2 separate regions of the Homo sapiens genome follow, and region 1 is linked to region 2. The links come from fine-mapping of genetic effects on gene expression. A gene starts in region 2. The other region holds a variant in brackets. All regions are shown on one strand. Distances are from middle to middle. Region 1 overlaps RTF2 (replication termination factor 2). Region 2 holds the start of RTF2 (replication termination factor 2).

Region 1 (4,393 bases), 50 kb after region 2:
CTTCAAGGCCTTACACTTGAATAACAAATACCAAAGCAGTTTGACAGCTTTGAAAAAAAGTTAGTGGAATGTGCAAGATTTAGTTGGTGTTTATGCTGGCTGGACTTCACATACCCATATATACTCTGTGTTACTCATTTAAGTGCGCTTTTGTATACAGTTGTCACCATCAACATTGGCCCTTATTACTGAAATCTGTCAGCCTCATTTAAATTTTTGCAAATGTGATTTGGGAGATGTAAATATAAAAGTGAGCAGCTCTGTGCAGATACATTTTTGTGTGAGGCAGAAGTGCATGACTGGTGTCACATGCAGAGGGTGAAGGCTTTAGGAGTTACGGAACATCAAAAGCCTTCTTCAGAGTGACTGTCTGTCTCATGTGACTAGCATCGGTCAGTCAGACAGGGCACCCGGGACAATGGGCAGCCACACTGACGCTGAAGTGGAGTGAATCTGAGCACAGCCTCCAACATTCTCTATCTTTTTGTAGAAAACAAAGAAACCCAAGGCAGCAGAGTCTGTTTCAAAACCAGATGTCAGTGAAGGTAAGATCCTTCAAGAGATCCTTATTTTAGCAAAATGCGACTCTAGGGCAGTCTGCTAATATGTTCATGCTTTGTTTTGCATTGTTTTTGCTTTGCCTACTTTGTTTCTTTTACAGAAGCCCCAGGGCCATCAAAAGTTAAGACAGGGAAGCCTGAAGAAGCCAGCCTTGATTCTAGAGAGAAGAAAACCAACTTGGCTCCCAAAAGCACAGGTGGGTCCTGTTGTAGCTACAGGGAGCTGTTTCGAGAAGGCTGGAAACCCAGGTGGCCGAGTCCAGGTTTCACTGGAGTGGGTGGATGGGAAGCCCAAGCCTGTCCTATGTCATGTCTCTAGAGAGTGCACTGAACTCTCTTTAGGGGGGTAACTAAGAAATATTGAACACACCCTCATCAGGAGCCGTGGCAGGAGTGATGGGGTCTGGGCACAAATGCTGGTTGTTTAGATTCCTGTCGAGTAAGTGCTTGGTGCCAAGCAAAAGAGGTTGCGCTGAGAACTGGCTCAGATGTTGCACAGAGACTGTCAGATGGACTGTGGCTCAGGGCCTGCGGGGAATGCCCCCAGTTTCTTTACTCTTGGGGCTTTCATGGGCTCCACGTGTGGCTCTCAGAGTCCCCTCTCTGCTGCCTCTTGACCAAGGATCAGTTTCTCCTAAAACTCACTCTCTGTAACTCAAAGAAAATACCATTTATTTCACAAAAAGAAAAATACAGATTCATTGTTAAGAGTGTGTGATCTTGTGCTCTAAGTAGCATCCAGGGTGGCTGACAGGCTCCCATCCCGGCTCTACATGGGACAGCCACTCAGGTTCCTGTGCCCATTTCCTCCCCTGGAACGCAGGCCCTGCCTCATCAGGACAATCTAAGTCATTCACGGGGCTGGGACCAGTGTCTGCGACAGAGCAAGACAGTAAATGATAGATGTGTTGTGCTGTGTCTGCTTTGCTGGAGTTGGCAATTAAGATGACGTCCGCCAGCACTCACACAGCCAGCAAGAGAACGTCTGGGACAGAGTGACTGATGGGCTTCCCTTCTGAGGATGCGAAGTTTAGAATCATCTTTATCCCAACCCTGACAGTTTTGGCTCTTCATTTTTCTAGCAATGAATGAGAGCTCTTCTGGAAAAGCTGGGAAGCCTCCGTGTGGAGCCACAAAGAGGTCCATCGCTGACAGTGAAGAATCGGAGGCCTACAAGTCCCTCTTTACCACTCACAGCTCCGCCAAGCGCTCCAAGGAGGAGTCTGCCCACTGGGTCACCCACACGTCCTACTGCTTCTGAAGCCCGCACTGCCACCGCTCCTGCCCCAGAAGGTTGTTTAGTTTCCACGTAGGCAGGTCGCTTTGTGCCTCTGAGTGCGCTGCTGTGTGTTCTCTCTATAGTTCTGTGTCATAAAGCTGTCCTGGCCAGCCTTCAAGCTGGTGTGGCCACTCTTGATGTGAGGCGTGTCGGTTCCAGGGGGGACATGGGAGGGGCTGCACAGTGGCCCGAGGTCATGCTTGCTTCCACCTGCAGGTGCATTTGGTCCTTTCCATGGCCAGGAAGCCCTGTGGGCTGCACTTTTTATGCTTGCAGTAACAAGAGACTCCAGAGTCCTCACCGGTGCAGAGTTGGCACATATTAATTAACTAAAATTCTAATGATCTTGCTACCAGCAATAAATCAAGTAGGCCAAGTGAAACTGGGCTTTAAAAAGGATGGATTTCAAATACACTGTGCCCACTAGAAGCTTCGAAGGGCCTCGTCCCTCTGCTACAGCCCTGGGAGGAGCCAGGATCCTTGTTGGTCTAGCTAAATACTGTTAGGGGAGTGTGCCCCATCTCATCATTTCGAAGATAGCAGAGTCATAGTTGGGCACCC[A/G]GTGATTGGGTTCAAAAATAAAGCTGGTCTGCCTCTTCTCTCCTCTGTGTTTTTATCTTTTCTACCTTCTGCTCATGCTTGGGTAAGAACATTGCAGCCGTTGCATTGGTGATTACAGGAGTCATTCCATGAAGTCAGAAGAACCCACCCTTCTCTCCTCCAGCAGATGGTAAAGGGAGAATCGTACCCAAAAAGAGGTGCATTTTATCTGCCTATAAGTTGTGTTGACGTCAATAGCTAGTGAAACTTCTCATGAGACTCCTAATGAAGAACCAAGAGCCACAGGCCTCTGCGTGGCTTTCTGCACACGGTGGTATGACTGAGATAGTGACTGGTTCTCTATACAGACCCCGGGGCCCTGGGTTTCCTTCAGAAGCAGAAGGAGCTGTGGGAGGTGAATGGTGGGAGGTGAACAGGCAGGTTCTGTGGGAGACACAGACACGTGGGCAGAACTCCAGGGAGAGGCCAGCAAGGGAGAACCATGTGTGGCCCTGCTTTTTCTCAAACCCTGTGTGGTTCCCGGCTTCACAGTTGATGGGAAGGTTTGGCCCCAAGGATATTTTGACATTGTGAGTATAGAGCATTTTAATAAAAATTAAGTGATGCGTTTTTGTCATGGACTTTTCCAGAACAAACCTGGATTAGCCATTTAATTTCCCCAATTTTCTATACAGCCAAACTCAACCATTTTCTCATTGTTTTTATTTCCCCCTTTTTTTTTTTTTTTTTTTTTAAATTTTGAAACAGGGTCTCACTCTGTCATCCAGGCTGGAGTGCAGTGGCATGATCATGGCTCACCATAGCCTTGACCTCCTGGGCTCAGGTGATCCACCCCCCTCAGCCTCCCGAGTAGCTGGGATTATAGGTGCGCACTACCGCACCCGGCTAATTTTGCTATTTTTTGTAGAGATGAGGTTTCGCCATGTTGCACAGGCTGGTCTTAAACTTCTGGGACCAAGCAATCTGCCCGCCTCGGCCTTCCAAAGTGCTGGGATTACAGGCGTGAGCCACGCTGCCTGGGCCCCCTTTTCTTTTAATGACCATTATTTTTACCAGGTTCGGTTTTCTGAATGTTAGCCTGAATCAGTTTTATTTTGCATTGAATGTATTGACTGTGTCCAGTTTTTTCTGGTAACTGAGTCACAGCATCCTCAACACAAAAATTACAGCATCTCAAAGTCCTCTGCTTTGGGCCTCTCTGAAATAAACAGGCTGTGGGCCTCCCTCCAGCTGCCCTCAGGACCATCCATGCAGGAGGGATCAGGGTTTCCTTGGAGATTTCTAGCCAGCCTTTAATATTTTGCTAAGGCACCACTCTTCAAGGCTCCTGGCCAGCTTGAGGGAAGAAGGTATCCATGATCTGTGCTCCTGCTGGGCATGAGGCCTCAATACACCAACGGCTGGGGAGGGCTGATCATTCGCATTATTTTTAGGGCTCACTGAGCAGCCAAGCACTTGACAGGCTTCTTCCCCTGGGACTCCCCAGCCACCCAGTGCAATGGGAAGATGGCCATCCCCCACTTTATAGGTGAGGTGCCTGAGGCCCAAAGCAGCAAGGCGAATGACAGTTCTGCCTGGCCACACCGCACCTTCTCCCCATTCAGTCCGTACCAAATGAAGGAATCAGTGGCGGCTGGGGCAGGCTCCCACCCAGGCGCCGAGACCACGGGTTCAGGTGCTGTGCCCAAGAGGAAAGTGGGGCATCTCCTAGCTCTCCCTCCTCCTCCGTCCACCTCCAGGACCCAAGCTGCTTTCCACCAAGGAGGGAGCTGGGAGGAGAAAATTGAAAAGATGTTGAAATTCTCCAAAATAGCATCTATTCAATTTCCCACAGTATCGGAGGAACCAGCCCCCAATATTTCAATGTAGGTTCTTTTCTCTTTTCCCTAAGCATCGGCCGGTCTGAGAAAGAGTACAAAAGAGAGAAATTTTACAGCTGGGTCTCTGGGGGTGACATCACGTCAGCAGGTTCTGTGTTGCTCCCGAGCCGCAA
Region 2 (4,393 bases):
AGTGAAAAAATGCCTACAAATCTCTCAGTGCACGCATGGTCATGGCTTAATAAAGAGCCGCTATTTTTGTTTTTTCTTCCCCAAATGAGAAAAGAACACTGGTTTGAGTCTTTCTAAAGATGCTGGTGTTTCTGCTCTTCTGTATTTGACTTTCTTTCCTTTGCTGTGAGAAAGAACTAATCCTAGCACTCATTCCCGGGTCTCTCACTGCCTATGTGACCTTGAAGGAGTCATTTGATCTTTCCACGCTTCTGTTTCCTCACCAGTAAATGGAATTCTAATAGTACTAACCAGTTTTAGTATCTGCCAAAACTAGGCTTTTCACCCCTTTCTCAATGAATCTGTACTTTCTTTTGGTTTACTGAGGAAATGTACTCATATATTGAGTGTGCCAAAGACTCTTCTAGGCACTGATGATACAATGTGGAATAAAAGTCCTGGCCGGGCTTGGTGGCTCACGGCTGTAATCCCAGCACTTTGGGAGGCCGAGGCAGGTGGATCACCTGAGATCAGGAGTTTGAGACCAGCCTGGCCATCACGGTGAAGCCCCGTCTCTACTAAAAATACAAAAATTAGCCCAGCATGGTGGCGGGCGCCTGTAATCTCAGCGACTGGGGAGGCTGAAGCAGGAGAATCGCTTTGATCCTGGGAGGTTGAGGTTGCAGTGAGCCGAGATCACATCACTGCACTCCAGTCTGGGCAACAGATCGAGACTCTGTCTAAAACAAAACAAAACAAAATGAAGTCCCTACCCTCATAGAGCTTACAGTTATTGTGGTTAGCATAGAAATAAATCATAAATCAATCAGAGACCAACTAATTAAAGGGATTATTTTTTAAAATTCTCATTAATCACAGTAACAAGTACCCCAAGCTTACATATAGCCCTTGAAGTTTCCACATCCACGTATTTTCTGGGCAACTCTTCCCAAGTAAAAAATATTTTCAGCGTTTTTATGTTTCACGTAGGTCAATAGGGTAATATCCAATCATAAAGATCTGCCTTCTTGGCAATGGAGAAATTTTCCCATCATATATATGTACAAATACATACATACATACATACATACATATTAATGACAGAGTCTTGCTCTGTTGCCTAGGCTGGAGTGCAGTGGCATAATCATAAGCTCACTGCAACCTTGAATTCCTGGGCTCAGGCAATCCTTCCTACCCCCTCAGCCTCCGGAGCCGCTAGGACTACAAAAGCTTACCACAACGCCTGGCTAATTTTTCTTTTTCTTTCAAGATGGTGTCTCACCATGTTGTCCAGGCTGACCTGGAACTCCTGGGCTCAGGTGCTCCTCCCGTCTCGGCCTCCCAAAGTGCTGGGATTATAGGCACTTTCCCATAATATTTATAATAATTAAAGGAACAAACAGAGAGATAGACAATCGCCTAAGAGCAGACAGACAATCATGAATTTTTAGCAAGGGATTTGTGTTCTTATAGATAAAATACAGCCTGACTCTTGGAACGGGCATGGCAACATCAGTGTATATTTTATAAGAACTATTATATCGTCTATTAATGATACTTGATTGTTAATAAAATTTTTTTAGCCTGGGCTTCAGGAAACTGTGAATGAAATACACACACGCACAAACTGTATGCAAAATTTCACACACATGCCATCTACAATATGCATGGCAACACCAGAAAGTTCCAGGCCTTAAGGGAGGGTCTTACTTCCTAGAATCTGTTGTAACATCACTTCACAAGATTTGTTGTGAGTGCTTGAGTCACAGTTGGCGCTCAAGAAAGATGCGTTCTCCTTTTAAACACAAAAATGTCCATTGATACAGCAGATTCCGTTCATAGGCATCCTTAATCGCAGAAACAGGAGGGCGGCCCTTTTCCTCAAGGCGCTCTCAGTCCAGGGATGTGCCCGCTCCGCAGCCACACAAGCTGGCGTGGGATAGGGTCAAAGAGCGGTGGATGCGCACGGGCCGCCCACGCCCTCGCTGCCCTCCCGGAGCGTGGGCGAGTGATTCCGATTGTGCAGCAGAAACCCAGGGTCTCACGGGAACGAGGAAACCCGCCCACGCCCAGCCTCCAAGCGACGCTCTCCATGACAACCGGCACTTGGTAACGGCCTCGCCCTGCCCCGCTACGCCGCGCCTAGCGTGCCGCCCCGCCCCGCCCCGCTACGCCACGACCAGCGTGCTGCGTCACGGCGGTGCGCCGGAAGTGGCTGCGGATTTCGCCGGAAATCCCGGAAGTGACAGCTTTGGGGGTTTGCTGCTGGCTCTGACTCCCGTCCTGCGATGGGTTGCGACGGGGGAACAATCCCCAAGAGGCATGAACTGGTGAAGGGGCCGAAGAAGGTTGAGAAGGTCAGTGATGTGGGCCGGCTCTTGGCGACCGGGGGTGGTGGGAATTTGACGACCCCAGAAAACGAGAGGAAGTAAGAAGGGGGAGCCAGCGGAGTTCCAGACCTGGCTGCGGTCTTTTATTCCATTCAGAGGACTCAAAATTAACAACAGTATTAAGAGTGGACATTCAATGGGTGCTGACTATTGCCATTCACTGGACAGTAATCTTAACAGGGGGTATCTCATGTAATTATCACAATAGCCCTATAGCTACATACTGTTGTCCTCATTTTCAGACATGGAAGTTGAGGCTCAAAAGGAGAAATTTGCAAAGCTAGTAAATGGCAGAGCCAGGATTTGAACCCTACCTGCGACTAGTAGCAATAATACAAATACCTAGTGTATACTGAGTTTTGTATACACTAACTTCATTTGCTCAGAGAAGCCTTCCCAAACTGTTCCCTTACCACATCCTTTTATAAACTGTCTTAGCCTGCACACGGCTGTACGTGGTTGATTTGTATCAAGTCTTCCCCGCTAGACGGTAAGTTCCTGATAGCAGAGGCTGTACCCTTTTTTTCTCTGCAACTAGCATGGTTCCTGGCACACTAAATATTTCGAATAAACAAATGAGTGAATAATCCCTGATCTCACAAGTAATCGAGGAAATTATAATAATTTCTTTGCTACTGACGGGGACATTGAGTCCAGGGATATTAAGGTGACTAAGATCACACAGCTGGTAGGTAGTGAAGCCAGGATTCCCATCCACTTATTTGGGATTTCAAAGTTAGCACAAGTAATTACTTTTTAATGATAAAATATTTGTAAAGCACCTAGTAGAGACTTCTTTACAAAAATATTTGTAAAGCACACGTGGAGACTTCATGTATTCTGATTCAGGAGCTGGAGAGCTTGTTTAAAAGGTAAACCCCTTAAGTCACTATTGTATTTGAAGCATTCCAGTGGCTTCCCATCACATTAAGAATAAAATCTCGTCAGACCCTTGAGCAGACCTTGCCTATGTTTCTGACCTCATCTTCTGCCCCTCTCCACCTCTTTCATACTGTTCTAGCTAAACAGGCCTCTTGTTCTTCAACCTGGAGTGTGAGTTCATCAATCTGAAATACTCTTCACTGAGATTGTCACATGATGAGTTTCTTTACTTCATTCAGTTTTTTACTCAAATGTCATCTGTCCACTGTAACTGAAATGTGCCTCACTTCCAATATTCTCTCTTCTCTTCTTAACAGTGCCTACCACTGTGTTGTTTATTGTCTCTTTCCCACGTAGACAGGAACCTTGTGTGTCTTACCTCTGTAACCCCTACCATGTGTCAGCCACATAATAGACACCTAATAAGTATGTGTGAATATGGGAATGAATGAATACCCAAGAGGATGAAGTGTACCCTCTGATCATACGTACATGTAAACAGGCGAATGCTGGATAATTAGCATTCATGAGTGGTTTTTTGGCTTTCACCAAAAAAGTGTTTAGCTCAGTTTTGTTTTCTTGTGCCCAGGGCTGAAAAGGAGTAGCTTAATGAAAGGCTTGACAAGAAACAGGTGTCGGAAGAGGGTAGAAAAGAAGGAAGAGCGATTCAAAAAAGCCAGAATGCCTAGGCAGGATGGATTTTTATTATAACTATTCACACAACAAATGCTTAATAAGTGGTTACCATATATACATTGTTGTAGGCCCCAGGGATATAGCAGTGAACAAGGCAGAGTCTAGCCCTGGTGGAGCTTACATTTCGGATCAATATTGTGAAATCTGCCCTGGTTCCTAACGCAGAGCACCTAAATTCCTTGTAATTTCCTGGGTGACGGGATCATCTTTTGTTCTAATAAGGCAATTATTGGTGGGCTCCTGGATGGGGCCTGGTCACCAGAAACACCAAGCCAAGATTAGAAGCCTGGAACTTTCAGCCCCACCTCACCCCCATCCTTCAGGGAGGAGAAGAGGAATTGGACATGGAGTTAATAATCCATCATGCCTACGTGGTGGGGTCTCCATAAAGATCCCTGAAGTTGAGGGTTTGGAGATTTTCTGGGTTGCCGACAACATCCACATGC

Evidence for each region. PIP is the estimated chance that this variant, and not a neighbour inherited with it, causes the effect.
Region 1: its variant is the best candidate, but not a certain one, in a credible set for the expression of RTF2 in lung (TOPMed, PIP 0.79).

The regions. Positions count from the first base shown.
Region 1 is chr20:56,516,445-56,520,837 of GRCh38, forward strand. RTF2 (replication termination factor 2) reads left to right here. Exons shown (of 9, transcript NM_016407.5): 7 at 491-545; 8 at 662-757; 9 at 1,643-3,005. The coding sequence ends at 1,821. It also overlaps the pseudogene GCNT7. Among named protein-coding and RNA genes, the nearest start is that of FAM209A, 6.1 kb to the right of the region's middle. The variant A/G (reference allele first, on the strand shown) is at 2,401.
Region 2 is chr20:56,466,431-56,470,823 of GRCh38, forward strand. It overlaps RTF2 (replication termination factor 2), which reads left to right and starts at 2,197. Exons shown (of 9, transcript NM_016407.5): 1 at 2,197-2,336. The coding sequence starts at 2,268.